Linked DNA regions of Homo sapiens: region 2 is linked to region 1. The links come from fine-mapping of genetic effects on gene expression. A gene starts in region 1. The other region holds a variant in brackets. All regions are shown on one strand. Distances are from middle to middle. Region 1 holds the start of ADAT1 (adenosine deaminase tRNA specific 1). Region 2 has its middle 17 kb from the start of CHST6.

Evidence for each region. PIP is the estimated chance that this variant, and not a neighbour inherited with it, causes the effect.
Region 2: its variant is the best candidate, but not a certain one, in a credible set for the expression of ADAT1 in esophagus mucosa (GTEx, PIP 0.59).

The regions. Positions count from the first base shown.
Region 1 is chr16:75,622,018-75,624,927 of GRCh38, reverse strand. It overlaps ADAT1 (adenosine deaminase tRNA specific 1), which reads left to right and starts at 1,647. Exons shown (of 10, transcript NM_001324445.2): 1 at 1,647-2,525. RefSeq lists enhancers at 1,334-1,853, 1,733-1,972, 1,854-2,373, 2,374-2,893, 2,894-2,910.
Region 2 is chr16:75,511,406-75,514,315 of GRCh38, reverse strand. No RefSeq gene overlaps it. Among named protein-coding and RNA genes, the nearest start is that of CHST6, 17 kb to the right of the region's middle. The variant G/A (reference allele first, on the strand shown) is at 1,444.

The DNA of each region.
Region 1 (2,910 bases):
ACCCCTTACCCCCACTGGAATATTTCTTAAAAGACAGAAGAGGCAGTCACTTGCAGATTAAAGATATTGGAGAGGAATGAGGAGCAAAGTCTTTGGCCTTGGAGGAGGGCCATGTCCCATTTCCTTTGAACTAGAGAGAAGGATGGGGTTGAGCAAGTTGCATAAATTTTTGAGGGGTAACAAAGAAAAATGAATTCTTTCATTTTTAGTAATAGAGCATTCAGTTACTGGGTGACAAAGGCCCCTGAAGTATCCAGGCAGCTATATTACTTATTCCCGGCAATCCAAAGGTTTTTAGACCTGTTCTGCCCACTACACTGTAGTAGTACTGTACTACAGTAGCCAGTAGCCACATGTGACTATCCAGCATCTGAAATGTGGCTGATCCAAATTGGGATGTATTCTAAGTGTAACACACACCAGATTTCTTAAACTTCGCATTAAAAACAGAACAGAACATAAGTATTTTTTAAAATATTGAGACTCGGCAGCCAGGTGCGGTGGCTCACGCCTGTAATCCAGCACTTTGGGAGGCCGAGGCGGGCAGATCACGAGGTCAGGAGATCGAGACCATCCTGGCTAACATGGTGAAACCCCGTATCTACTAAAAATACAAAAATTAGCCTGACGTGGTGGCAGGCACCTGTAGTCCCAGCTACTCGCGAGGCTGAGGCAGGAGAATGGCGTGAACCTGGGAGGCGGAGCTTGCAGTGAGCAGAGATTGCGCCACTGCACTCCAGCCTGGGTGACAGAGCGAGACTCCGTCTCAAAAAAAAAAAAAAAAAAAAAAAAAATATATATATATATATATATGAGACAGACAGACCGACCCCGGGCATCGTGACTCACGCCTGTAATCCCAGCACTCTGGGAGGTTGAGGCGGGCGGATCACTTGAGGTCAGGAGTTCGAGACCAGCCTGGTAACATGGCGAAACCCCGTCTCTACTAAAAATAACAAAAATGAGCCGGGTGTGATGGCGGGCGCCTGTAATCCCAGCTACTTGGGAGGCTGAGGCAGGAGAATCGCTTGAAGCCAGGAGACGGAGGTTGCAGTGCGCCGAAATTGCGCCGCTTCCAGCCTGGGCGACAAAGCGAGACTCCATCTCAAAAAATTTTTTGATTATATGTTGAAATAATACTATTTGGGATGTATGGGTTAAATAAAATATATATGATTGTTTCTATTTTGACTTTTAATGAGGCTACTGGAAATTTTTAAATTACGTATATGGTTCGAATTATATATCTATTGGACAGTGATGTTACAGATAGAAATACAGCATAGTCAGGAGAATCGCTTGAACCGGGAGGCGAAGGTTGCAGTGAGCCGAGATCGCGCCTCTACACTCCAGCCTGAGCAACAGAGCAAGACTCCGTCTCAAAAAAAAAAAAGAAAAAGAAAAAAATTCAGCCGAGTGCTGCAAGATACGTCATTCTAGTTGAAGGAATATCTAAGCCAACAAGCGGCTCCCATCATCCGGTTTCACGCCTCTCTAAGACGCAGCCAGGGCTGCGGGACTTGAAGCGCGGGAATCTCGGCCCTGGCACCGACTCCCCGGAAAAACTACAGGGCCCGGCATGCACTGCGCGCCTCTGGGAGCGGGAGCCGAAAGGAACCGGCGCTTTGTGACGTCACGTCCGCCTTACCGGCGGATTAAGCTCGCTTTCTTCTAGGCGCGTTTCCTGAAGGTGGGAGGGGAGCGTCCGCGAGGCGCTGGGGCGACGGGGCAGGTTTATCCGGGCTAACTTTGCCGAGTCTGTTTTTGAGGGAAGAGGTTGTGAGGATCGTATCTTCCGGGACGCGTTTCACGTGGGAAGGCGCTCCACGCCTGGAACTGTCAGCAGCCGGCGCCTGAAGAGCTCCTGGCGCGGGGCCTCTGGCCTGGCAGCCGCAGGACCCAATGGATCAGGCGCTCACGCTGTTCTCACTGCATGGCTTCAGTGCCTTGCCTGGCACCTCCTATCCTGTAACTGGCCGACTCGGGGTCCCACCCAGGCTTCTCCAGCGGCCGGGAAGGGGCTCTGCTTCCGGAAGTGTTTAGGAAGGGAGCCAGCGTAAACCAGAGTCCCTTCCTCCAAGCATCGCTGAAGCCTTTTCTCCCCTGGCAGCCGACTTCCTTTTCTTTGGAAAGGACGTCAGTTTTTTTAGCTTGTTGAAACTGTTCAGAGATGCGGTCTTGTGGGCAAATAAATGCCTGTTTAGCTGAGCTGTTATTTTCAGCTAAGAAGTTCTTCAAGTTTTCAAGATCTAGGAGGGGGTGTAGGCTCGAATTATAATGGACCCAGTGTAGCAAAACATTTATTCATTTAAACAATTGTGCATGCTCATTCAGACGCACTACCTGAGTGAGATGATGCCGTTCTGGGCTGCTTCATCTTAAAGAGAGTCACTGTTTCTTCTGGCAACTTCTACCTGCCTTGCCTATCGAGGTTTGTGAATTGCACCTCTGGTTTAATTTCAGGTCGATGGCCAGGTGGTCTTCATAAACTATACTGCCTTGTGATGCCTCCCTAGAAATGAGAGGTGAGTCCCTTCCAAACGAGGATTCTAGGATCTCATGCTTTCTTTTCTTGACAAGGCTTGCCCTGGCCCTCTGACTTTCAAGTCACAGGGTCTCACTTCCTGCAGATTTTTGTTTTAAATCACTGTGGTCTGATTTACCAGTAGCATTCACTACAGTAGCGAGCCTGCACGTTGCGCTGCAGGGGATTCATAACAATACCATCTTTCAAAAGCTGCATGCACTGGAGCTCAGGAAAGCCTTTTTTGTTTTTTTGAGAGGGAGTCTCGCTCTGTCACCCAGCCTGGAGTGCAGTGGCACAATCTCGGCTCATTGCGACCTCCGCCTCCCGGGTTCAAGCGATTCTCCTGCCTCAGCCTCCCGAGTAGCTGGGACTACAGGCACGCG
Region 2 (2,910 bases), 110 kb after region 1:
CATAGTTAATATTTTGGCCCCACAGAAAAGGTTATTTGCAGTTTATGCCAACTTGTTATTGCAAAATCATTGCTCTGAAATATTCATTTCTACCAGGAAGCTTTGGATTGATTTTTTTTACCCGCAATATCTGCCCAACCCTCCTTATTCCAGTTGTTTAGATTTCTTTTGTCATTTTTAATGAATCTGAATGTCAAGGAAGGCAGATCTTTTTCTGGTATCAGGATTGATTTTATTGTGTGATAATACAGATTTCACTAAACTAAAGTCCTAGAGGGTCTTGTGATAATTAAAGTACAACCCAATAATATTTTTCTTGTGTCATTGCTGGAATCAAGACTGGGTCAGATTTGGACCACTCATTTATTCACTCAACAAACATTTACTGAGTGTCAATTGTGTGCCCCCCTTTTTTTTCTCTAGGTACCAGGTCAAGATGCCATGGTGAACAAAACAAAGCCCTTTCCCACATGGAGCTTTAATTCCAATGGAGGGAGGGAGAAAACAACCAACCTGTGGGCTGGAACAGCTGGTCGTGAGTGTCAGGGTGAGGGCAGAAAGTGGTAGGGCCTGTGTAGCTGGGGTGGAGTGCCATTTGTCGTTGGGTGATGGGGAGACCCTCGATGGTGATGATATTGGAGTCAAAATCCGAAGGAAGTGAGGAATGAGCCAACAGCTCTTGGGGTAAGAGCAAGTGTTCCAGTCCAGGGAGCAGCCGATTCAGAGGCCCTGAAACAGGAGCTTACAGAAGAAACATTGAGGGGGCCAGGGTGCCTGGAGGGACTATGTGGGCAAGGGGGAGAGGAGGAGGGGAGGGCAGGTCCTGGAGGGCTCTACTGGGGGGTTTTGAGCAGAGATGAGATGATTCTGACTTTTATTTTTATTTATTTATTTATTTTTTTGAGATGGAGTCTTACTCTGTCGCCCAGGCTAGAGTGCAGTGGCGCGATCTCGGCTCACTGCAAGTTCTGCCTCCCGGGTTCACACCATTCTCCTGCCTCAGCCTCCTGAGTAGCTGGGACTACAGGCGCCCACCACCACGCCCGCCTAATTTTTTGTATTTTTATTAGAGATGGGGTTTCACGGTGTTAGCCAGGATGGTCTCAATCTCCTGACCTCATGATCCGCCAGTCTCGGCCTCCCAAAGTCCTGGGATTACAGGTGTGAGCCACTGCGCCTGGCCTTTTTTTTTTTTTTTTTTGAGATGGAGTCTCACTCTGTCACCCAGGCCGGAGTGCAGTGGCAGGATCTCAGCTCACTGCAGCCTCCGCCTCCTGGGTTCCAGCAATTCTCTGCCTCAGCCTCCCGAGTAGCTGGGATTATAGGCACCCACCACCACACCCGGGTAATTTTTGTATTATTAGTAGAGACAGGGTTTCACCATCTTGGCCAGGCTGGTCTTGAACTCCTGACCTCATGATCCACCCACCTTGGCCTCCCAAA[G/A]TGCTGGGATTACAGATGTGGGCCACCATGCCCGGCCAATCCTGACTTTTTTTAAAGTACACAGTCCAGTGGTTTTTAGTGTGTTCAGAGAGTTGTATAACTGTTGCCACAATCAATTTGAGAATATTTGCATCATCCCGAGAAGAAATCCCTTACCCAGTGGCATTGACTTACTGGCTTTGCGTGGAGAATAGATGGAAAGCCTGATCAGGACAAAGTCTGCTCAGGCTAGGATCCAGAGACCACTGAGGTAAGGCAGGCCAGGGGCACACCCACGAACCAGGGAGGAGCAGGCAGGCAGTATCCGAGAGAGGTGGTTGACTACAGTTGGTAGTTCAGTGGGCATGTCCTCTTGTTAGAGAGGAGTGGAGGGGACAGTTGGACCTCCAGGCAGGGAGGTGGGGTTTGGCAAGAGAGGAGTCTCCCATTGGACAATGGGTAGAGTTGCAGGCTGATGGGCAATGATTAGTATCAAGGCAGCTCAGCACGGAGTTGAAGGACCACATAAGACTCTTAATCCCCAGGAGGACCCATGTGGTCTGCCTAGAACCCCAGCTTCAGAGGAACTGGCTGTGTTGACCCAGTCATTCACTGGAACACAAGATGAAAGTGGGGCCAGCTGGAAGGAGGGCTGAGTGCTGAGCCTCATGCTGCCCACTTGGCTCAGTTTCTTTGCATTGCTGCCATTTGGGGCCAGGGTGGTCTTGAGGCCTTGGTTGGGAGTTAGGTGACTCTGCTGTGGAGGTTAGAGGCTAGGGAGCCAGCCATTACAGACCGCTTGTGTTTATGTTCTCTATATCTGTTCTCTTTCACTGCAATATCTCTCTGAAAATACATCCTTAAAGAAATAAGCTCTTTGAGAGCAGGCATCTTAGACTTTTTTCACCAATGTTGCCAGCATATAGAACGAACTCTGTAAATATTCACAGATGGACTGGGCACAGTGGCTCACGCCTGTAATGCCAGCACTTTGGGAGGGTTAGGTGGGCAGATCACCTGAGGTCAGGAGTTCGAGACCAGCCTGGCCAACATGGCAAAACCCCATTGCTACTAAAAATGCAAAAAAAATTAGCTTGGCGTAGTGGCTTGTGCCTGTAATCCCAGCTACTCAGGAGGCTGAGACACGAGAATCTCTTGCACCCAGGAGGCGGAGGTTGCAGTGAGCTGAGATCGTGCCACTGCACTCCAGCCTGGGTGACAGAGTGAGACTCATAAATAAATAAATAAATATTCATGGATGAATGAATAAATTCTTAATGTTTGTATAAGTTTGCTATTGTTACTGTAATCAATTCCCCAAATTGAGCTACTTAAAACTATATTGATTTTATCATCTTATAGTTCTTACTTCTGGTGGTCAAAAGTCCAAATTGGATGTCTCTGGGCTAAAACCAAGGTTCAACGGGACTATGTTCCTTCTAGAGGCTCTAGGAAGAATTTGCTTCCTTGACTTTACCAGCTTCTAGA